7 linked regions of the Homo sapiens genome follow. The protein of the gene in region 2 purifies or fractionates together with the protein of the main gene of each other region. This does not show direct contact. Each region holds a gene or a part of one and is shown on either strand. Other genes may lie near its edges. The genes, in order: PGAP4, KCNK1, EI24, VSIG1, SEC63, SLC25A4 and RER1.

Region 1 (2,252 bases), on a different chromosome or scaffold from region 2:
CAGTGTGTGTGTTGGGAGTGGGGGGAGGATGGGTGTGAGGGATCTCTGCGTGTTTCTCTCAGGGGAAGGCTGGGTTTTCTCTTTCAGCCTACAGGTGTTGCTGCATGTTCTTGGGGTGGCCAATGGAGCACTAGACAGGAATACCACCCATGGCAGCTCTGCAACTTATTCTAAGACTTTTAGGGCAAGAGGCAGGAAAGAGTGAAGGAATGATCACCACATTGTACCAGGGGTATACCAGTGAGAGGTAAGATGATCTGGGTGGTAGCAGTGACCCCCACTTTTTTTACCCAGAAAAAGATGGATAAATGCTCTGACATTGCTGTGACCCAGGGATCTGTGGCCATGGTTGCTTGTGCAGGCAGCAGCCAATACTTCTGAATGGCTCCCTTGGGACTACAAAACTGTGTGTGGGCGCAGGGAGCCCATACTATTTGCCACATCAGAAAAATCCATTCATGAAAAGGAAAGACAGAGAATGATAAAAGTCTTCTCAGAAAGCCTTAGCAAAATGGGTGCTTTTATTTTCACAGACATGTCTATGCAATACACTCAGTCACAAGAGAGAGCTTCTTAAGCCTGACCATAATTTAAACTCTGAAAGGTGAGTGAGCCTGTTAAGAGACCTCCACCCTTCTAGTAACCTATATCCCTTGATATGGGAAGGATATCTTAGTTCTCCCTAGCCCCTTGCTTAGGATTAAGTGAGAGACTTCAGCTTTGGTGTAAAGCTGTCAGCTGCCCTAATCAAGGACAATACACAAAAATTAGACTCCTTATAAGAATAAGGGATTAAATGGAGGAAGATCTAGAAGTGGGTGGGAACAAAAGAGCAGAACTGAGCCTGCATCTGCAGAAAATGTCCAAAGACAACTGGCAGAGTTCACTCCATGGGGAAAAGGCATGTTAGTGTGTAGGTAGAGAAACTGGACAAGGAAGGATGGCCTTAGCCTTCCATAATGGAGAAGTCGGGCAGGGGATGTCTGCATGCAATAGACAACTGAATTAGAAAGAGCAGAAATGTAAACCAGCAGTGCTTCCCTATCTTGGGCCTGGCTAGCTTAAAGGGGCTCTACTGTCATTGGTCAAAAAACTTTCATGAGGAGATCCAATCACTAATGCAACAAACTCTAATGAGTTCTAAGTTGGAGAGAGCTCAGTTCTAAAGCTTGGGGGTAGACAGGTCACTGAGAGAGGAGGAATGAAGGAGTGGGATCTGAACATTGTAATAAGTCATCTAGTAGCTCTGATCACTTTGGACATTGCTGGGGGATACATAACAGCTCACTATAACATTACAACACATACTTATATCTGTTTGCTCCTCCAAACTAACATGACAATGTGTTTCTGCCATCTTAGCTTACAGAGACATGATCTAGTTCAGCTTATACTCAGATTTTACAAAAGAGACTTTGACCACATAGATATTCATAAAATTAATGTGGTTAAGAAAAAAGTGCAGGGGCTTGAAGTCAGAAGAGCTCCGTTCCCATTTTGGCTATGCTGCTGTTCAGGTTTGTGACCTGCAGAGCAGTTTAGCATCTCTGGGTCTCAATTTGTTCATCTGTAGAGCGTGGGTGATCAACCTTTATGTAATCCTTCTGTGTTGAGTGGGTCTCAAGATGGAAGCTCACTATGGGAATTTAAAAGCAAACTGTGGCATCGAAACAAACTGGACAATTGCTTGAACTCTAATATCATCATCCATCCTCATAAAGTAACTTGTTGGTCACTAGTCTGACAGTACTGTTAAAAGACATTTATTTGTAACTTTTGAGAAAATAATTTTCAGACTCTGATCTTAGAATAAGCTCATGAGGAGTCTCATTTCCAAGCTGGAGATCATTTCCAGTTTGAATGAACAATTCTTCTTTTTGGCTTGGGTGAACGTGGGGATAGGTGAAAGCTGAGCTGCACATCCTTCAGAGGTCACAATGAAAAGTCAGTCTTTATTCTAGCAGGGCTTGGTCATCTGGAATAGCTGGTACATAGGTGGCAGCTCCATGCCCTATCTCATACTTTAAACAACATCACCAATATCTTTTTCCGAAATAAGCTTGAGTTGTATATGTTTATTATAGGAGAGAAAAGTTTGCCAAGCGTCTTCTATGGACTAAGCACTTGCTAGGTGTTTTACATATATTCTGCCATTTAATCCTCAAGGCAACTTTAACATGTAAGTATTACTGTCCTCATTTTACAGGTGAAGAAATTGAGACCCAGAGTGATTATATGACCTGCCCAAGGTG
Region 2 (4,133 bases):
ATTTAAAATATTGTTTGTTTCCAGCACACAATTTAACATCTCTTTATTTCCCCTTGTAGGGAAGAAAAGATTTCTCACCCATTATAAGATTCATGGCCAGGGCACCTATGATAATTTGAAGACTTTAAAAAACATCAAATGAATCAAATAATGGGTAATTATAATTTTGAAACCTTAAGAAATATCAAATGTGTCAAATAATGGGGCAGTACAAAGCCAACAGAAGAGTACTTTTCATTTAGAATAGTTGTATTCATATAACAAGAATTCATTGATGTGCTAACTTTACAAACCAAGAGGCACCTTTTTCATTTAGTTTATCCTTAAGTGCCCCTTGCACTGATTTCTTAAATGAACACTTGTTTTGCATGAATACAGACTTTCTTAGGAACTACAAAGCAATCTGAATACCAATAATAAGACGTCTATTCCCACCCCACCCCTTTCTTAAACAGAAACTATCCCTTTTTCTAATTCTCCTCTGGGAAGAATATTTCATCTATTCAAGATTATAAACTAATTTTTAACATTTAATTAGACAATATGATGTTAAGACTATACATGAGTCACGAAAAATCCCACCCAGATAAAAGCAAACCTTTTTCCTCAAAACTGTTCTTATTCTTGTTCTATCCTCACAATATCATTAGTAAGAAAACACCACACGCTATAAGCATCCTTCGAAATGTTTACCCAACATTGTGACCCAGTTGTAAACTTTCTGTAGCCCCATGGAAACACTTACTTCTGGGAAGAATGAATGACTCTCAATATAGCACAAATATACTCCAAAGGAAAGGCATGGTGACTCCTAAATGATCTGAGGAACAGAGGACTAGGTAAAGACAATGGAGGCAGAGTTATGGAAAGAAAAATTAAATTGTATTGGCAAGGGAACAGGCATTCTTTGGAAAGTGAGATAACAGGTCTGTCTTGTCTAGCGCTACATTTAACAGTTTTTTAGATCTCACAATACAAGCTAGAATTCCACTTCTGTTTATTTCAGGGTAGATTTACATCAGTTTAGTAATTCACCCCAGACCTCTGAATAATTGTTTCATGTGATCTACATGAATAGTGTATTATTACTCATTACCAAGTAATTACCAAGATAGTCAACAAGATATAGCCCAAAGGGAATTATACACAATAATTTGGGTGGTGGAGGGGGGTGGGGAGGAAGGAAGAGTTGGGAGTCACACAAAGGGATGTGATTCACCTGTAAAGGTTGAGGGTGGGGGGTTACAAAGTGGTCCTGGCAGAGAAATCACAAGGCCCAGGTTCCAGGACGACACTGGTAACTAGGAAGTGTGTGACCTTGTGCATGACGAGATGGATTATTTCAAAGATTGGATCTCATAGATCAAAAGAAGGGACTGTGCTGAACGCTCTTTCAGATTCCTCCCACTGTCCAAATACCAATTGATATCTCCACTCTGGGTATGTGCCTTACTAGGTCCGGCTGGGGAAATTCGGCCTTCATTCATCTGATCTGGCACAGTGACCGAGCCCTGGGGCATGCGCCCGGCCTCATCTTTCACCTGAGGAGGCTCCTCCATGGCCGGGCGCCCCGCGGGTGAGTCGTACGGGGACGTGGCGCTTCGAAGTTTATGGGGAGCCTCGCACACCTCAAGTTGAAGGAACTGCTGAATCAGGGTGCCCCAATTAAGTCAGATCTTAGGCAATCCTATGGTTCCTTTACTCTCCCTCACCCTTCCTCCTACTCTGAAAAGAAACCGGATCGGCCTGTCCGCCCAGAGGTCACCTGGGAAGAGCAGAGTGATGTCACTCGGCTACCCCCAAAACTGCCTCCAAGGTACAAAAGAGCTGGAATATCTGTGCATGGTCCAAAGGGACGGCACACTCCGGAAGGTGACCCTTTAGAAGGTATTATTACCAGACTGCAGCCTCGGCCTCTGGGATGGGTGCGGGAGGAAGGTGGTGAGTTTCCATCATCCCGCTGCCTTGCCGCACGGCGGCCAGGTGCTGCTACACATTCAAACCCGACAGTTTGGCTTAGTGGGTTGCGAAAAAAGAACTCAAGGGGAGGAAGCACCTGCAGCCACCCAGGCCGAAGTTAGGGACCACTTCCCCAGAGTTACGGACGGCAACAACCAAGTCACGTCTGGAGTCACCTCTCTGGCTTCCGGCTCCGCAGGGCTTGCCCTCCCGAGTCACCCAGGCAGAGGCCGGGGACGCCAGTAAGGGGAAGGTCGGAGGGTCGGGAGGACAGTGAGGGGAGGCGGGCTGGAGGAGCCGGGATGGCGAAAGGTGGGGGGTGGGGTGGGAGGGTTAGAGGGGCCCGGGGCGCCGGGGCCGGGGTGTGTGGGTTGTGGGCGAGGTGGCCGGGGCGGCCAGGGGGCGCGCAGGATACCCTACCTGTGGTGGAGAGCACGGTGCTGGCGAAGAAGAGCGCGGAGGTGAAGTCCCAGTTCCAGTTGCCCGAGGCGTTGCTGAGCACCGACACGCCGTAGTTGCTGGCCTCCAGCACCCGGCCCAGGAACTGCTCCAGCTGCTGCTCAGACAGGCACTCGTGCTCCTCCAAGAAGCGTCGCTTCAGCTTGCGCAGCTCCTGGCGCAGCAGGTCCTCATAGGGCAGCTCCACCGAGGAGAAGACCACTGCGCCGAAGACCAGGTAGAGCAAGTAGCCCAGCACCAGGAAGCCGAAGCACCAGGCCGAGCGGTGCCGCTCCACCAGGCGCACGCACGAGCTGCCGGCCAGGGACTGCAGCATCTTCTCCACCGCCGCCGCCAAGGCCAACGCCGCAGACCGGCCGGAGCGCGGCCCGCCGCCTCTTCTGGCCCCGCCGCCCCCGCCCCCGCCCGGGCCTGGCTCCCGCCCGCCGCCCGCTCCCCCGCGCGCCCGCCCGCCCCGCTCCTCCGGGCAGCGCCGTCTTCCTGCGATTGGCTCTCTCGGGCGATGTTTTTCTTCCTTCTTTTCCTGTTTCCTTGCAATATAAAAAGCCCAGATGATGTGGCGCTGACGTGGTTGCCGGCTCAGGTAACCCGAGAGTCAGCGGAGACCGCGCGCAAACTTGGCCAGAGCGCCTGGGCTGGGCTGCCGGGGCCCGGGACGCACCGCCTTCTGCGCACTCCAGAGGTGGGGCGGGCGCTCGGTGGCGCCCAGACCCCGACCCGACAGCCACCAGCTCCTCCCGCTCCCTCCCTTCCTGGGTCCAGTAGCCAAACTCTAGCTGACCGCGCGCGGCGTGTGCGTGTGTGTGTGTGTGTGTTCGCGCGCGTGTAGTGTGGGCCGCTTCTGGTCAATGCGCTGGCCGTCCAAGCCCCCTGTCCAAGCTACTCTTGTTTCCCACTTATTTTCTCCCAATCAAAGCCAGTATTACAAAACAGCAAGCGCTGAAGTACTTTCCTTCTTTGTCTTATTGGTCGAAGGATTGAGCAATCTGGTGCCAGTAATGACGGTGAAAATACCAGAACATCAGAGTTGGAAGGCTCCTTGAATCAGTCTCCTCTCTCCCACCCATCCCCCTCACAAAAAGGACTTGAGGGAAAAGGAGAGTCTCAGAGAAGTCCTATTTCTGAGTTCGAATTTTCTAAAACATGACCTTAGGTTTTTTGGTGAAAAAACATCCCAAATGTGTCAACTGCCAGAAGAAACTGAGCTTTCCCAACTGTCACTTCTTTTTAAAGTGACAAAAATGTGGGCGAGGGTCAGCGAGCCGCCTGCTTGTGGATGAAAATAAAAATTGGTACACCCTTTCTGGAAAGGCAATTTAGCGACACGTCTCAAGAACCTTGAAAGGGTTTATTTGTTCTGATTCAGTGATATGTCCTAAGAAAAAACAATCAGAGAGGCACTTACTTACAAAGACTGGTCATAGACGGTATCTATATATACATACATGTAGTTGTATAATATAGTGCATACACATGTGGGACACACACACACACACACACACACACACGGTATAGATGAAATAATGAAGACTCAGAACAATCTAAATATTCCAAAATAGAGAATGGTTAAATAAGTTATGGCATCTCTACAGCATGGACACCATATAGACATTAAACACATTAAAGTTGTGTCTAAAGACTATTGAAGCAAAACTGTGTAGAATCTCAAATATGTAAAATATTTGTATTTTGTTACAAAATAAAATGACATCTGC
Region 3 (3,500 bases), on a different chromosome or scaffold from region 2:
CCAGGCTGGTCTCAAATGCCTGACCTTAGGTGATCCGCCCACCTCGGCCTCCCAAAGTGCTGGGATCACAGGCATGAACTACTGCGCCCAGCCGACCCGTCTGTCTCTTTAAAAAAAAAAAAAAATTAGGCATAACTATAAAAAGAAAAAAAGTTTCCACCTGGCAGGACTGGAGAATAACCAGAGTAGCAGAAAAAAGCAGGTAAATTCATGTTTCTTATAATTTTATAATGTAATTTTAAAATTCTCATTTCCGTGGGGAAAAAAAGATTTAAAAATCATTACCTCCCACCAGCATATATATAATACTCTGTATAAATATAATACTCTGTCTTTGTGAAGTTCTCTCTAGTGAAACAGTTTTTCTTTTTAATAAAGCTGCCCATATGCCCAGAAGGTCAGTCTCACCTGAATGAGGAAAAGAGCCTGCAGCAAAAGGTTGAAGAGCATGTCAGCAATTATTTTGCTGACACTAGGGAATGGGTGAGGCTTCCTCCCTGATACCTCAAATGCCAGGTCAGCTATATCCTGTAACAGAGAAAGTGTACCAAAACATGAATTAAATGGCCTTGATATACATCCCCAAAGCTAAGGCCACTAGTCCGCCACTAGAGCTGCCAGTTAAGAAAAGGCTTATTTAAAAATAAGCTGGGCACGATGGCATGTGCCTATAGTCCCAGCTACTCAGGAGGCTAAGGTAGGAGGATTGCTGCCTTATGCCGTGGCTCACGCCTATAATCCCAGCACTTTGGGAGGCCGAGGCAGGCAGATCAGCAGGTCAGGAGTTTGAGACCAGCCTGGCCAACATGGTGAAACCCTGTCACTAATAAAAATACAAAAAAAATTAGCCAGGCATGGTGGCACGTGCCTGTAGTCCCAGCTACTTGGAAGGCTGAAGCAGGAGAATTGCTTGAACCCGGGAGGCAAAGGTTGCAGTGCACTCCAGCCTGGGCGACAGAGTGAGACTGTCTCAAAAAAAAAAAAAAAAAAAAAAAAGCCAAAACGAAAAAGAAAAGGCACCAGACACCTGCCAATGAGATGCTGAGACAATAATTCCATTCTGTAAGAACACAAAGATCAGCTACTGGCTACCTGGCCAAGAAACATTAAGGCTGAAAAACAGGTCCCCCTACATGCCCACTAACTTCACAGGCTGAAACTTGTCACCTGTCAGCCAATCATGCTGCGGGACCCAGACTCCATTCTGCCCTGGACCTACCTGAAACCAAATGGCATTCACCACTTTGCTAAGCACAAACAAGGGGAGCACCCAAAGAGCACTGAAAATTGACGTGAGGAAGAATTCCAGCCACGACCAAACATCTCCATGTAGTGATGGGTCACCTAAGAAAGAGGAAACGAGTTACTAGAAATGGAGAAATGGAAATCCAGAAGACCAAATGCGGAACCCCCATCTCGTGACTATTCTCTGTCTCCTCCTGGATCTTTCTAGTTCTTGCCAGCACATCACTATACCTATCTCAAAGAGTCTAACTCATAATAGACGCACCACATTCTGGCCACAATTCCAATTCAAAGAAACCATAGATATGTGCTGCTTGACACAAACCTGCTTACATGATGGTAACGAGATGCCACAGTGATTACCAGTACGCTATCTGCAGGATACCATCTGGGTTTAAATCTCAGCTTTGCCTCTTACTAATGGTTTAACCTTGGTAACTTGCATTTCCTCATTCATAAAATGGATAGAACAACAGTACCCATTCTTAAAGGGCCTCTAGGAGAATAACGAAATATAAATTTTTAAAAAGAATAAAACAACAAAAAAGAAAATAAACAGTGAAAGCTCCTGGTACACAGGAAATGTTCAGTAAACTGAGGGAGACTGAAACATCATCTCCCACTCTGTCCCCAACAGACAAGGAGCAGGGTATACACTTACCGATAATTCGGGCTGTTACCGACTGAAGCACAGGAATAAATACTCGATAAAACAAGAGGAGACTGAACTAAAGAAAAGAAGCAACAAGGCAAACATCAAAATCCAGTCTTTAAAACAGGAGCTTCAATTTTTAGTGTAATGATTTTATAGATGGGAGTGACTTTTATAAATCAGGAGGCCTAGGCCGGGCGCGGTGGCTCATGCGCGGTGGTTCACTTTGAGAGGCCAAGGCAGGCAGATCACTTGAGGTCAGGAGTTCGAGACCAGCCTGGCCAAGATGGTGAAACCCCGTCTCTACTAAAAATACAACAATTGGTCGGGTGTGGTGGTGCATGCCTGTAATCCCAGCTACTGGGAAGGCTGAGGCAGGAGAATCGCTTGAACCCGGGAGGCAGAGGTTGCAGTGAGCCAAGATCATGCCACTGCACTCCAGCCTGAGCAACAGAGCGAGCCTCCATCTCAAATAAATACATAAATAAATAAATAAAATAAATCAGGAGGCCTGAAAAAGCACCAAAACTGGATCCATTTCTATTTCCCAACACTCCAATTGAGAGATACAAACTTGATATTGCCTATAAAACAATGAAACTTTTGGGGGCATACAGGAACATTTCAAGTAGTATTCAGGCCAAAATACAGGCATGTACTAAGTACACAGGAATACATATTAATTAAATTTAAAACTAACATCTGAAAACATCTGTGAATTGTTTAGATTAAGAAGTGATGAATTACTCTAAATTCTAAGTCAAAGGAAATATTTATCCATTCTTCAAAGTACCCAAATTTCAGTTAAGCCTGCACTGGGATTCTCAGTAAATGGTAGGCAATCTTTTCTGCTATAGGTTTCAATGCAAATTAACTCTTGTTGATCACTATAAGCAGAAGCAGGGAGAACCTTGTTCTTGTCTAGCCGTATCTGCCCTTCCCGAGTCCCCATAGTTGCTGTTAGCATTTTAAAATGTCTAGACAGTGTCAAGAGAAACTGCTACCTCTAATACTTGTGAATGAGTCATTTTAGAAACAAAATTCAAGTGTATATTCAGGGCTGTGACGTTTGCTTACATATAAGTGTGCTTTCCTGAGTGGGAATAAAATCTCTGCAGATGCACAGACTCCTGAGTTATATTTCTAAGTGTACATCAGCAGATGAAAACTATTTGTCTCAGTGTTTCAAGAAAACAGTTCATAGCTATCAACCCAGCAACAATCTGAAGATGCTTATAAGGCACCTGGAATTTAAAGAACTTACCCAGAACACTCCACCATTCCAAGCACAACACTGGAAAATTCTACTAACAATACGTGGCTCACTGGAAAAGATCACATGTATTTAGTTTATAAAGCATAAGTTATTTCCTAATTGTCATTCAGTAGTTCATTTTATATCTTATCTTTTGTGGGTACTGTATTATTTTTCAGTGCCTCATGTTCTCCCAATGTTCTAATGTCAGTCAATGAGAAAAGACTAAAAAAATGGTCAAGCGCAGTGGCTCACGGCTGTAATCCTAACACTTTGGGAGGCCGTGGTAGGCGATCAACTGAGGTCAGGAGTTCGAGACCAGCCTGGCCAACATGGCAAAACCCTGTC
Region 4 (3,500 bases), on a different chromosome or scaffold from region 2:
AGGTAATTCCTGAGGTCCCTTCATAATACACACCTTCTATGTACATGTTTTGTTGGTTTCATGTAAATGTATATTATTCAAGTGATTGTTATTGTTCAATAAACTGTATTGTCTTAGTCTGGTGAGACTAATTTTTCATAAAATCTACTGGAAGGCCTTACAGTTCATTTAATTCACTTCCCTCAGTTTACAGAAGAAACCAAAGCCCAGAGAGGTTAAAAAATAAAAGGCAAAATTGACGGTTGAGACAGATCTGGAATCCAATTTTCCTAATTCCTTGTACTGTGGGCTTTACCTTAACAGGCCAATAAAAGAGGGAAAGCAATTAGAAAACCAAAAGATATTGTCTAGATGAATTCAAATGTATTCTCCTTTAAGCAGAAAGTCAATATATTTTAAAACTAAGGCAGAAAGCTGGATTTTGAGGGAAAAATCCCAGGAAAAGAGTACATTTACAGAGAAAACTATTTGTTTCTCTCCCGTTTTTTCTAACATCAACGTGTTTTCTTGCTTGCATTATAAATGCAGCCATTTATAATTCATTCATTCACACCTACTGAAATCACAAACTCTTGCCCCAGAATGGTCTTGTTTGACTTCCAAACCAGAAAGCCAGGATTAACTCCAGGTATTCAAGTGGGACAGAAGGAGGTTCAATACATCAGAGGATTACTTTCATTTGAGTTGGCACCCACGCTATCAGGCTTTCAATTTCACTAGGCAGCATGGGGCTTATTTACTTTCTAATTGACAGTTTGAGGTCTTGTTGTTTCTTACCTGGAGTTCAGCCTGCTGTCCATCAAGAGTGCCCTTCACAGCCTCAACATCTGGCCACTTCCCCTCCTCCCAAGGAGACTGTGGACAGTGTAAAACATCAGCCCTGTTTTATACTGATGCTTGATGACATCACAATGAGATACAACATCAGTCACGCCTGAGGCCCACAGCAAGTCCCAGAGGATCCAGGTGAAAAGGACCTTATTTCTGCAGAGATCTTGAGGCCAAAATGGTGTGTTTTAGGCCAGAATTAGGATATGAGAAGAAGTAAAAGTGTCCACTGTATCCATGTGTCCATGCCCACTGTAAAAGTCCCATAGTTGGGCATGAGTCAAGGTGAAATGAGTATATAAGCAATGAGGCCCTGGAACCTTACCCATGAAAAAGACCTTTACTACCTCTTACATGCTAGCTCCTCATGCTGTAGTCTAATACATTTTGCCCTCTCACGATTGACACTAAAAGGTATTAGAGACAGAAATGGGGGTAGTGAGGGCTAACAATGGAGACCTAAAAGAGCCAAGGCTTTGGCTTCACAGTTCTCTGTAAGAAGTAAAGTACCTAGGGGTAGACAGCAGCAGCCAGACACATACATGGAGGGGCTTTCTGTTAAGGGGAAGTCCACACAGTCACACTGTCCTTGTAAAGAAAAAAAGAAAGAAGTGTTTTCCTGAAACTGCTTATCTAATCATATAGGAAGGGCTACAACTTGATTCCACTTTCCATAAAAGAATAACTCTTTTAAAAATCAAAGCTGAACAGTGGCCAAAGCCTGGCCCATGATCCTGTGTGGCTTGTACACTTTTCAAAGAAAGAATATTATCAATTTAGACGTCAAAGCAATGGAGATCCAGAAAAAGCCCCGGATGTACAATGGGCCACATCTTTGGGTGGAGGTGGGGAGGAGGTGATTTTTTTAAGGAAATCCATCCCAGTGTTCCCTTAAGGGGCGCTTGTTAATTTTTTACCCACCTGCACTTTGTGCTTGGGTTCATGGTAGACTGCCCTGCTTTCTCCCAAGGTCCTCTCTGCCTGCCCCCAGGGTGACGCTAGAGGCTGATGGGTGGAGTCATAATTGCACATTAATTATAAGACCTCTGTGAGATAGTTTGGTTTGTGGTTTCTAAGGTTAAGGGGCCTTCAGGAGCCCGATGGATATTGGAAATATGGGAAATGGCTGGGAGGGGCTGGTAAGTAGTGGTAAGCTCATAACAGATATGGGGACTGCAGGGAACGGAAAAGTCAACGCAAACAAGGCATTCGAACTGTTGAAACAAACAAACAAAATACTGGGCAGGCCGACTGAAATACATCCACTGGCCAAATCTGACCCAGAGGCCTGCGGTTAGTAAACTCGAATTCATCCTTTTCTAATACAAAAAAAGGACACCGAGGCCTCAATAGAGGGAGCCATTTTCCCAAGGTCACACAATTTACAGTCAGACCTGGAATTCAGACCTTCTGATTCCCACTGAATATATTAAGATGGCACTCACAGTGCTTCTTAAGATGAGAAAGATGATTCCTGGGCAACCTTCTCCTTTTGGGACCATTCCATTCCCTGCTCCAGCCCAACCTTTCTCCTGCCAATTGTTGCTATTTATTGGCATGATGCTTCCCATGCTGAGTATGTTCACCACATGATGCCCTCAATATTTGCCAGCTGCAATTGTAGGCCCCTCAGTTCTTTGCAGAGCAACCTTTCCCTTCCTACTGTGCCAAGTTCCTATTCACACAAGGCCGTGCAGCTGGGAACCAGATTTGTCCTAAAAGACTTTTTCCTCAGCTTAGTGACACTGCTCTCTAACTAGAAGCATGGAGTATAAACAAGAAGGGTTGAAAGAATTCAGTCTGCTTTCTGTTTGAATCTGAGTTGGAGTTAGCTTCCAGAGCTGCTTTTGCAGATTCCTTCTGGGAAGGTGGAGGACATGGACATCCACAGCAAACCACCCATTCTTTCCTTTCCAGCTTCTTGCTTTCTTGTACTGCTGATAGAGGGGCTAGCCATAGGATAGGGAAGGGGTGTGCAGGTATAAGGTGGCAATGGTCACAAGCTCAGAATTTTATTTGGACTGTATTGTGGTGCAGGGATGGCATGTGGAAGGAATGGGATACCAAAAGAAAGACTCTCTTGCTTCCAAACCAACTCTCTTACCAACCCTCCATTTGCCTGGGTATCTGCCATTTGAGTTGCTCCTTTTGGAAGAAGGCATGGAAGGTCCCATTCAATGCATTCTTTAGAAGAGAATAAAATAAGCTTTCGCTAGTCCCTAACACCTTACCATGAGATTAATTTATCAGATTTAGCAGAAAGTGAATGGGACACAATACATAAATTTGATGGTGGGGTGGGGAAGAACTTGCAGTATTTCTCAGTAGGGGTGACACTGGCATTTTGGGCAGACAACTCTTTATTGTGTGGCTCTGTCCTGTGTATTTCAGGTTGTAAAACCTGAGAAGCCAGAGAACATAAGAACACTAGGTCCTGGGAAAGAAGTTGTCTAAGTTGTTTATGAGACTGGCAAAGGGTATTTTTTCACTATGAACATTCTTGAAGAATAAGTATTGTCTGAGAGATTCATGCTAAGCAGAGTCAAGGCATGGTCTGTTCAGGGACAGGTGGGGTCTCTGTAGTGTTAGCATTAACAGACTGGATGGAAGATGAAGCCATCTGTGTGACCAGAAAGGCACCAGACCACCCCAAATTTCCATGTTAGCCTGCC
Region 5 (4,090 bases), on a different chromosome or scaffold from region 2:
CGCCTGGGCCTCCCAAAGTGAGCCACGGCAGGCGTGAGCCACCATGCCCGGCCAACCTCACTGCATTTTTAAGAAGATTAAATAAAGTAAAAGTTGAAGTCCATGATTTACAAATAGTATTAATTCCCTCCACCTAAACTACCACCACTTTTTCAAAGACACTTACATGCTGAAGGGGGTCAAGTATGACTTGTTGGCAGGGCGTGGTGGCTCATGCCTGTAGTCCCAGCACTTTGGGAGCCCGAGGAGGGCAGATCACTTGGTGTCAGGAGTTGGAGACCAGCCTGGTCAACATGGTGAAACCCCATCTTTACTAAAAACACGAAAATAAGCCAAGCCTGGTGGTGCACGCCTGTAATCCCAGCTACTGGGGAAGCTGTGGCAGAACTGCTTGAACCCAGCAGGTGGAGGCTGCAATGAGTCAAGATCAAGCCACTGCACTCCATCCTGGGCAACAGAGTGAGACTCTGTCTCTAAATAAATAAATAAATAAATAAATAAATAAATAGTATGATTCTTCTATGAAATCAGGTGAATTTTATAATACGAAACTCACCATGAAAATATGACTTTCAAATTTCAAAAATCCATCCTGACACAGTGGCTCAAGTCTGTAAGGCCAGCTACTCGGGGGGCTGAAGCGGGAGGATGACTTGAAGCAAGTTCAAGACCAGCCTGGGTAAATGAGACTCTCCCCGCTTTAAAAAGAAAAAAAGAACAACTTTAAAAATCCAATGTAGATTAAAAAATGATGGCTAATTTCTGAAATCAGGGCAGTTTCTCAAAACACTTTTTTTTATACCTTTGTTCTGCCTGATCAAAACACATTCTGGCCAAACCCACCGACTACTCTCCCAATACCTTTTTGTTTTCTACACTACCAATTGCACACATAATGGCTGTTAGGTGAAAATAAACTACTGAAAAGTGTACCCTTTTAACTTGAAATACAACAACCACAAGAATGGCCTAGGTTTGCAGATAAGAAAAGCCATTACAGCATTAAGACTTCACTTATACACAATCACTGCCCAAAGAACCTACCCAATTTTTTTTCCTTTTTCAACATCGAGGAAGAACCTACACAATTTAAATGCACTTAGGAAATAAGGCACAACAGTCCAAGATCCAAATTTCATAAACTACCCATTGAGTAAAAAAAGTATTAAGACTAGTAACTTTGGACAGATTTTTGCATCTAATGGATTTTTAAACTTATTGTCAAACGTACAAAATGATGCAATCCTTTGTTACTATTTATCCTAAATTTATTTTAGTTCTATTCCAAGTCAAGAATGTTAGTTTCCTGCAGATCACATGGGGCGGGGGGGAAAAAGAATGTTACAGGACACTGAATCCATCTGAAAGTATAACAAGTTCTGAGCTGATTCAAGGCTTCACTGTTAACAACTTCTCCAAGTAGAGTATATAACCTGGACAACCTAGACCTCCAGCACACCCAATTGAAGAGAAGATATTTAAGCAAGTTAGCACAGCTCTTGTGCAATAGAAAGCTTTCCCTAAGTTGTTAATACTCAAAACCCACTCCTTACTGTTAACACTACCATAAATAACCCATTAGGCCCTCGCAGTTACATCAGCTTTAAGAATACCATCTGCCATATGTCCTAGTAGAGTGCAACAAATGGATGCAAACATTACCCAAACATCAAGTGAAATATGAAAAGAATCTGTTATTCTGTGCTTTAATTCGATGTTGTTTAATGTGAAAAGACTTAGAACCAAAAGTAAATCGACCCACTACCTCAAAATTCCCTACAAGATTAATTAAACGAGACTTAATCCTTCATACTTGCACTTTTTCCGTCACAAACAGGAAACTCCGAAGAAAAGGAAATAGAAAAAAGCCTATTTTTGCTAAGAGGAATAACGGCATTGCTTCCAACCCCCACAGTGAGTGAACAAATGAAAAAGCAACGGGAGGAAGTGACGGGGGTAGGCGGTGGAAAGCTCAATTGGAGTCCTAAGCATGCCACCCGGCTCAGAGATGCCCTAAAACATCTGTTAAGAGCAGCTGCAACAGGGAAACCGGAGTCGGGGGATGAGGGCCGCGAACTGGACGGACTGAGAGTTGTGCCCGCACGTTCAGTCTCTTCTTGGCCAACTCTTTGCTCACCTCCCAAGTCCCCATCCCGCTTCCTCCATAAAGAAAAATCCCCAATAAAAGCAAAGGCAGAGAAGACAAAGAGGCAGGAGGAGGCTGCAAGGAGCGTCCACAACAATGGAGAAGATGGAGCGAGCGAAACTCCTGAGGACAATGAAGGGAGGTGGAGAAGCGCCGAGGGAAACGCTGCTGACCCGGGCCCCGCCAGTGGCGGACGCTGGACACAGGCCGGGCCGCACCGTCCCTGTCATCCCGGACGCCGCGGGCTGGGGCCGGGCAAGCGGGCGCCGCAGGGCCTGGGGGCGCTGGCGGGGCCTGCGCGGGTTCGCGGGCAAAGGCCGGCGGGACTCACCGGCATTCTGATCTCGGGGCCAGAGGTAGTATGTCGCCGGGATCACGATGAGCCCCACGAAGGAGGTGAGGAAGTAGAAGAAGGTGTTCCCACTGTCATCGTACTGGAACTGCTGCCCGGCCATGGCACCCCCTCCTCCGCCTCGCTCTTCTCACCGCCGCCGCCACGACCACGCTCTGCACTCCCGCTCCCAACGCCCCGGCCCGAGTGGCGTAGCTTGGACACTGCCGCCGCCGCCTCTCCTCCCCGCCCCCACGCCACTCTCACGGACACGCCGCCGCCACCTCTGCCGCTGCCGCCGCCGTCGCCAGCTCTCGCGAGAGGAGATAGTTCCCGCCCCGCTCAGTTTTCCCTCCCCCTGCGTGTCCCCAGCGAGCTCGCTAAGGGAGACGTGGCGAGCGCAACGGTGGAACTCGGCGAGGTCTCGCCCTTAGCCCCGCCCTAACGTCAAAGCCCTCCCCCAACCCCTCCCCTAGGGTCCCGCCCCTAACCGCTCCGCCTTCCTCCACCGCTCAGTTTCCCAGCGCACCACGCCGGATTCCGGGCGTCGGCGTACAGGATCCCAGAGAAGGCTTCCCGCCGGAGCAGCGGTCGCGGGCGGTTCACCTGGCTGCGCAGGGGTCCCAGATATTCAGAGAAGAGCTGAGGCTCAGCCTGTCCTGCCCTCTGGATTAATTGCCCTGGTTGATCACGTTTCCTTGGGTTCTGGATCTGCTCCTCCAGCCCCCATATTTTGGAAACAAGTGTCATTTAGAATAGGGGGTGGGAGGCCGGGCACAGTGGCTCACGCCTGTAATCCCAGCACTTTGAGAGGCCGAGGCGGACGGATCATGAGATCAGGAGTTCGAGACCAGCCTGACCAACATGGTGAAACCCACTCTCTACTAAAAATACAAAAATTAGCCGGACGTGGTGGCGCGCGCCTCCATCTCAAAAAAAAAAAAAATTGGGGGATGGGGAGGTGTGGGTTGCGGGAGGTGTGGGTTGCAGTTGTGTTTTCAAAGCAATGTTTACTATCTGGCCGGGCGCAGTGGCTCATGCCTGTAATCCCAGTACTTTGGGAGACCGGGTGGATCATGAGGTCAGGAGTTCCAGACCAGCCTAACCAACATGGTGAAACCGCGTCTCTACTAAAAATACAAAAACTAGCCGGCTGTGGTGGCACGCGCCTGTAATCCCAGCTACTCAGGAGGCTGAGGCAGGAGAATCGCTTGAACCCGGGAGGCGGAGGTTGCAGTGAGACCGGATCGCTCTCCACTGGGCGACAGATTTGAATCTACGCTGTGCCCATCTTGCAGATGAAGATTTCCCCAAGCCGTTACAGATGGTTCCCTACCCATTCCAGAGCTGCTAATTATAACCACCAGCTTCAGGCGGTAGGCTGAGACCTTTATTGTTTTGTGTCATTTAGTCATCAGTAAACCCCATGGAATAAAGCAAAGTATGTCTGCTCTACAAATGAGAAAATTGAGGCCCAGAGAGACTGCCCAAGGTCCCTCACAGTAAAAGAATGTCTGAGGATTCAAACCCATATCATTTTGATGCCACAAAGCCAGTGTGCCCTTGACCCTCCATCGCCCAGGACCTTAAAATTTCCTGACAGTGACTGGCAT
Region 6 (2,309 bases), on a different chromosome or scaffold from region 2:
CTGATCATTAACACTGAGCTCATGGCCCAGGCCTGAAGACAGCTGATCTGACACATGTGTTTTCCACAAGGCATGTCTTAGCCCTCCTGTGCTGAGGAACAGCATTCTGCTTGGGGGCCATGTTAATTGGCAATGATTGTGCCTTGGATAAACTGCATTTTGGCCACTGCACAAAGCTTGAGGGCCTTTTTAAACAGCAGAATTTCTGTAGCACGAAGTAAACATGTGAACAGGATGCTTGTTTACAGGATGAGGCTGAAATGAAAAGGCGGGGTAAGTGTCACCTTGTTCCACTGCAGCTAGGGATGTGTGTCAGGCAACTTGAGTTTGTCATCATTCTGTGTGTCCAAGGACCTTAAAGTGGTTACAAATGAAGTTTGGCAGTGAAGCCAGTTTACAGATATGTAATCTGTGAATGAGATCAACTGTACTTTATTGTGGATTGATAAAATCTCTGATATTGAGGAGGAGCAGAAAAGCAAAGAATTTGTGACACGGTAGACTTTGTTAAATTTTATTTAAGGGCTTGACATTTGCATTTAAGGCAGCCGTAAGTTTTTATTCATTGCATTATACGACTCCAACAAGCCTGTCCAGCCACCCCCATGGTGCTTTGCACGTTCAAGATTTCACCCGAACTGATGAAACCCTTTCCCAAATATTTTGTAGGTTCCCTGTGCTTTTTAGATGCACTTTCCCTTCTCGCTCACTCTTCCATTCAGCAGAAACTTGCTAAACACCTTCTCTGTCCTGGGCACTGTACCAGGTGTGGAAGATAAGCTCGCCTTGCGGCGCTCGATTCTCTTGCAGCCTTGCACCTTGGGGGTGTTTAGTAAATGCCGCCTCAACACAAAGGATGCCACATATTTTACAGAATAAAATGGAACGGGAGCAGTCGCCCAGTTAATTGAGATTTCAACACAAATACTTGAGACAAGTTTTCATTGTTTTTAGTGTCCAATTATTACCATTATGGACTCACTCATCTTGCATCATCCTCCATAATTTTTCTCATACATTTAAAATACAAAATAAGGTCTTAAAAAGATGTAAAATGCCAACAGGTGAGGCTTTAGGGGAGAAAATACCTAAAGGTGATTGGGGTGGGGGTGGTGGTGGTGAAGGAGGGCTGCGCCTAGGAGAGAGCTGTGTGGGAAATGGGGCTGATGAGAAATGCCTGGGGCAGGTACCCGAGAGTCGGACGCTCAATTCCAACTTGTCACTTTTACGTAAACCAGACCTTCCAGCATGAGGCAGCTTTGCACAATGATGGTATGGCGTGCGGGTAGGTTAGTGAGGGAAGTACTGCCTGTTCTCCCGCCAGATCCCAGCACTCTCAGAGGCTGAGGGTTCTAGGAATTCATGGTGAGTTAAGTAGCTGCGGTGAGGAACTAGCTCAGCAGGGCCTGGGGCAACGTGCATTAGAGGTAACCTTCGCAGGAAGCGGAAGGGCTGACATCTGGGTCACATGCAGAGAATGTAGATAATGTGCACTATGTAATAAATGTCCATGCCTCTTCCCTCCCCATTCCATGCCAGGGTTAAAGACGGAACACAATTACACTTCTTGGTTGGGTTGGGAGGACGCACTGTTCATTCATTGTATCAGGTCTTCCTCCTCCTAAACTTGGGCCCTGCTTGGAGATACGCTCCATCAAAGCACTTGCCCACTACTAGCCTGCCCTGCTTTTATTCCCTATCAGCAATAGAGTTTGGATCACTTAGAACGAAAAGCAACAGGAGGACAATGGATCCAGGAGGCCTCTTAACTGCACATGTGCTGCCTGGCCTCGAGGAGACAGGATGGAGAGGTACCTTCTTTTTAGCCCTTTAGACTTTATTGGCCTAGATATCTACCAGGTGAGGTCAGATGTGATCCTGGATTTTATAAAACTCAGACCTTGGTAACTGTGGTAAAAGCAACACAGCCAATTTTTAGCTGGGGAGGCAGGAGTGAGTCGGTGGAAGGGCTTGGTAAGCAAGGTAAAGAACAGGAGGTACAGAGACCAACCCCCACCACCCAACCACCTGTCAGAAAACACAGAGAAGACATTTGCCTGCCTTTCAAGCTTTGCCAAGGATACAGGGACTTGCTTCCTCCAGATTAGTCACAATCCAGGAGACTATAGCAACTGCTTGGTCTTTTCCTGGTCCAAGTGTGAACTTTCCAACCTGATAGTCTAAGTATTTTCCTCTGGCTCGCAAATCTCGGAGGAGCAAATCCAAAACTGACTTCCTGTAGGTCTTGATAAATTGTTACAGAAGTACTGGAGGATGCTTTCTATACCCATGTTTCTAAATCTGGTTAT
Region 7 (3,500 bases), about 230 Mb from region 2:
GCTCAGGGGCCAGGAGGCCTCTCATCTTTAAAGTAGGAATGACAACCGGCAGGCCCTGGGTACTGAGCTGTGCTTTACCGAAGAGCGGCAGGTCCTGACGCCGTCTCCTCTCAGGAGTGGGGTGGCGGCGTGCTCAGCTGAGGAGCCAGGTGGCAGTCAGGCTTGGCTTGGCCTGCCCAGAAGCAGGGCTGTGGCAGGACCTTGGACACGTGGCTTCCACTGTTTGAGACTTGGTGAAATGGGGGTCATGATGCCCTTCACTTGAGCATCTGGGAATTAAGTGGGTGAACAATGTGACCTCTGGCACCTGGGTTCTCAGGTGAATTCCTCATGGCATCACAGCAGTGTTGAAATAGGAGCAGATACGTTACCTCCGCTTGCCAGATAAGAAACTGGGACGCAGATGGATGGACTACCTGAGAGTTGTAGATAACATTTTCCTGTTCATGGGGTGGAGGACCTGGCCCTGAGAGGACAGGATCCCTCCTGCTCCTGCCAGACCAGAGACCCAGGACAGGGCGTGGAGCAGACAAGGTGCCTGGGCGGGGGAACCCTGAGGGATCCACAGAGGGTGCGGTCCTTGGAGGGAGGACATGCAGTGCCACGTGCCATGGACCAGCCAGTGGACCCCATGGCCAGCAAGGCTGCTCCTGGGGCCAGTGGGGTGGACAGTCCCGCCCACGCAGGTGACTGAGGTGCCAGTGTGGGAATGAAAATGCGGCCTGTGCTCCTGGGCCCATGCGTCTCACGCTGCCCTTCCTCTCCAGGGAAGCCTGTGTACCTGCTACTTTTTCCCGAACAATTCATGGTAAAAACACAAATGGTATATGGACAAAATACTGAATGTGGAAGAAACCTACTTGACAGTGTTGGTGAAAATAGGGCCAGGATTTCACACCCGTGAATGCTTTTTACTGAAAAGTATTTTGTGTTTTTCTCCCAGTTACAGAATGTCTGAAGGGGACAGTGTGGGAGAATCCGTCCATGGGAAACCTTCGGTGGTGTACAGATTTTTCACAAGACTTGGACAGGTTGGTGGGTTTTTTAGTAGATGAGTATAAATATTTGAAAAAGAAACGGGACTCCCAGCATTTTCGGGAAGGATCTGTTTGCTGGTGTTCCTGATGGAGAAGTTACTTCGCCTCAGGCTCAAACTTCCTGAAGACAGCGTTCTCTTCACTGTGAAGGGCCAGCTGTGGAGAGATCGGGCTCTGGGGCCACACGTGGTCTATCAAACATATGCGTTTTCTGTTTCTGTTTTCCTTTTACCAAGCTTTAAAAATATAAAACCCAGTCTCAGCTCCCAGGCAGGACAGATGCGGCCGTGGCTGCCGTTCTGCTCTTGCTGTCCCTCTCCCAGCCACCCACGTCCCCGGTGCTGGTAGCCCCACCTGCCCCGTGTCAGCTCGGCGGTTCTGTCCTTGAGGGTGAGAGGCTCTTGTGTGGGCTGCGTGTGCATTGCTTGGTGAGTGAGGGACCTAGAGCTGCCTTTGAACGCTGGAGTCCGAACCTCTGTCAGGAAAAGCTTGGGTCACCGGCAGTTCCAGGTGCTGAGGATCCGGCTCAAATAAAAATTCATCACCTTAATTAAATCACATATGAAAAGCGATTGGCGATTAATGAAGTTGGGTGACAGGCATATGTAAGCTTCTATAATCTTTTTACTTTTGTGAATTTGGAAATTTCTCACAATTTGAAAATTAAATTTCTAAATTAAAATAAAAAACCATACATATGTATATTTGTAAAAATAAATACATAAAACTAAGGGCTCCTTCGGTCATGTCCACAGCCGCCTGGACGCACACACATGTGGGTGTGGCTGCTGGGGCTCAGGCTGTGGCCAGTGGGCCTGGGAGCGGGGCAAGGCTGGCTGCTGGCTGCTGCAGATGGGGGAGCTGACTTGAGATGTGACGATAAGGGCTGTGCTGTAGGGTGGGGACTTTGAGATGCACAGTCCTCTCTTTGGGGTGAGGCTGGGTCTTCCCCATAGTGATCCCTTGGGGCCAGCACAATGTCACAGTCTCCTAGGAGATTGTTTTGTAATAGTCTTGCTTAAGAGATGAACCTGCTTCAGGAATTATTGAAAATAAACTTTGGATTAATTGTAGTCACTTCTTTGTGCTGATACATAGATGATCTCTTGCTATTTTAACTCACTCTTTTAGCTGTTTTAAAAATTGAAAGCCAACCCTAGCAGAAGGTACATTTTGTGGCAGGGTCAGTACAGAAGTTACAGGACCTGCTTCATGCTTTTGGACTCTTGTCTTTCTAGATTTATCAGTCCTGGCTAGACAAGTCCACACCCTACACGGCTGTGCGATGGGTCGTGACACTGGGCCTGAGCTTTGTCTACATGATTCGAGTTTACCTGCTGCAGGTAGGTGTGGGCTGAAGTGACGAGACTTGGCTCTGTCCACGTTACCTGGGCGTGATGTTTGTGGGGATGTTGTTGATCCAGTCTGTCTTGCAGGAAGTGGTCTCTAGTAATCAATTTTCAGCTAAACGCCAAATGTCAGAAAGATCTCAGTGACTGTCTTTAACGAACAGGGTTGTTTATGATTCACCCGGAGTCGCCTCGCCAGGCTTCTCAGTATACCCAGGCCGTCCTGAGCCCAGCCTGGCCCTGCCCTGGGCACGTCCAGGCCTGGACAGTGGAGCCGCTGGTGTCCCTCCGACCCTGCTGCATGATGCTCAGGACAAGGTTGCGCTCTGTGGCTGCCTCATTCCTTGGGTGAAGAGTCCATGCCTTGGGTGTCATGAATGACTCGGCGTCCAAAGGGTTTATGTAGCTTTTCCTGAGCTCTCCCTTGTGTGAGGCCAAAGCACAGTGCAGGTTGAGACGCCGAGTCAAGTAAGAGAGACAGTGACCGAAGGGGGTCTTGAGGGTTTCCTTCGTGTGTTTTCGGGCACCCCTAGGTCAGGTGATGTCGTCTCAGACTTCACCTGGGTGCTCCTTTACTTGCTGGTAAACACGGGGTTTCTAGGAGCAAACCTGTAAGATGGGAATTCTTCGTCGGTCTTTAGAGGAGGTTACATAATCTTATGTGCAGAGCAGGGCATGTTGAAAGCCTTGTCTGGGCTATTTTCTCCTCTGGGGACTGTAGAAGATACTTCCTTGTTTAAAGCACACACCTTAATTTATTTATTTATTTTTGTTTTTAAATTGGAACTGGGTCCATTCTCTGATGGAAAGAATGACCTAGAAATCTTGAATCAGGGACTTCAGGCAGGAGCAGGGGGCGGGAAGAGTGCAGCACCCACAGGTCAGTTTTATTGCGTTCGAAACCAAGCTCGTGCCTCATTTGGCGTCTCTTCAGGTGTGGCCCTGCAGCCGAGGATGGACACACAGACATCAGTTAGCCCTCACATCCGGCGTTCAGCCGAGGATGGACACACAGACATCAGTTAGCCCTCACATCCGGCGTTCAGCCAGGGATGGACACACAGACATCAGTTAGCCCTCACATCTGGCGTTCAGCCGTCTGACTGGAAAAGCT

The links.
Region 1: the proteins of KCNK1 (region 2) and PGAP4 purify together in Homo sapiens (affinity purification with mass spectrometry; one large-scale study listed by BioGRID and IntAct). This does not show direct contact.
Region 3: the proteins of KCNK1 (region 2) and EI24 purify together in Homo sapiens (affinity purification with mass spectrometry; one large-scale study listed by BioGRID and IntAct). This does not show direct contact.
Region 4: the proteins of KCNK1 (region 2) and VSIG1 purify together in Homo sapiens (co-immunoprecipitation; one large-scale study listed by IntAct). This does not show direct contact.
Region 5: the proteins of KCNK1 (region 2) and SEC63 purify together in Homo sapiens (affinity purification with mass spectrometry; one large-scale study listed by BioGRID and IntAct). This does not show direct contact.
Region 6: the proteins of KCNK1 (region 2) and SLC25A4 purify together in Homo sapiens (affinity purification with mass spectrometry; one large-scale study listed by BioGRID and IntAct). This does not show direct contact.
Region 7: the proteins of KCNK1 (region 2) and RER1 purify together in Homo sapiens (affinity purification with mass spectrometry; one large-scale study listed by BioGRID and IntAct). This does not show direct contact.

What each region holds. Positions count from the first base shown.
Region 1 is NC_000009.12:101,472,670-101,474,921, forward strand, and holds the end of PGAP4 (GPI-N-acetylgalactosamine transferase PGAP4), read right to left. Parts: 3' UTR 501-2,252; downstream 1-500. UniProt on the Homo sapiens protein: Golgi-resident glycosylphosphatidylinositol (GPI)-N-acetylgalactosamine transferase that catalyzes the N-acetyl-beta-D-galactosamine transfer from an UDP-N-acetyl-alpha-D-galactosamine to the 4-OH-position of the first mannose of the glycosylphosphatidylinositol (GPI) of a GPI-anchored protein (GPI-AP).
Region 2 is NC_000001.11:233,612,773-233,616,905, reverse strand, and holds the start of KCNK1 (potassium channel subfamily K member 1), read right to left. Parts: upstream 2,801-4,133; 5' UTR 2,735-2,800; coding exon 2,380-2,734; intron 1-2,379. UniProt on the Homo sapiens protein: Ion channel that contributes to passive transmembrane potassium transport and to the regulation of the resting membrane potential in brain astrocytes, but also in kidney and in other tissues.
Region 3 is NC_000011.10:125,575,977-125,579,476, reverse strand, and holds part of EI24 (etoposide-induced protein 2.4 homolog), read right to left. Parts: intron 3,223-3,500; coding exon 3,162-3,222; intron 1,974-3,161; coding exon 1,907-1,973; intron 1,742-1,906; exon of another isoform or gene 1,571-1,741; intron 1,345-1,570; coding exon 1,220-1,344; intron 529-1,219; coding exon 409-528; intron 1-408. UniProt on the Homo sapiens protein: Acts as a negative growth regulator via p53-mediated apoptosis pathway. Regulates formation of degradative autolysosomes during autophagy.
Region 4 is NC_000023.11:108,062,065-108,065,564, reverse strand, and holds part of VSIG1 (V-set and immunoglobulin domain-containing protein 1 isoform 2 precursor), read right to left. Parts: intron 856-3,500; coding exon of another isoform or gene 778-855; intron 1-777.
Region 5 is NC_000006.12:107,955,409-107,959,498, forward strand, and holds the start of SEC63 (translocation protein SEC63 homolog), read right to left. Parts: upstream 2,801-4,090; 5' UTR 2,602-2,800; coding exon 2,478-2,601; intron 1,856-2,477; exon of another isoform or gene 557-1,855; intron 1-556. UniProt on the Homo sapiens protein: Mediates cotranslational and post-translational transport of certain precursor polypeptides across endoplasmic reticulum (ER). Proposed to play an auxiliary role in recognition of precursors with short and apolar signal peptides.
Region 6 is NC_000004.12:185,148,574-185,150,882, reverse strand, and holds the end of SLC25A4 (ADP/ATP translocase 1), read right to left. Parts: 3' UTR 501-2,309; downstream 1-500. UniProt on the Homo sapiens protein: ADP:ATP antiporter that mediates import of ADP into the mitochondrial matrix for ATP synthesis, and export of ATP out to fuel the cell.
Region 7 is NC_000001.11:2,394,841-2,398,340, forward strand, and holds part of RER1 (protein RER1), read left to right. Parts: intron 1-943; 5' UTR 944-950; coding exon 951-1,031; intron 1,032-2,275; coding exon 2,276-2,380; intron 2,381-3,500. UniProt on the Homo sapiens protein: Involved in the retrieval of endoplasmic reticulum membrane proteins from the early Golgi compartment.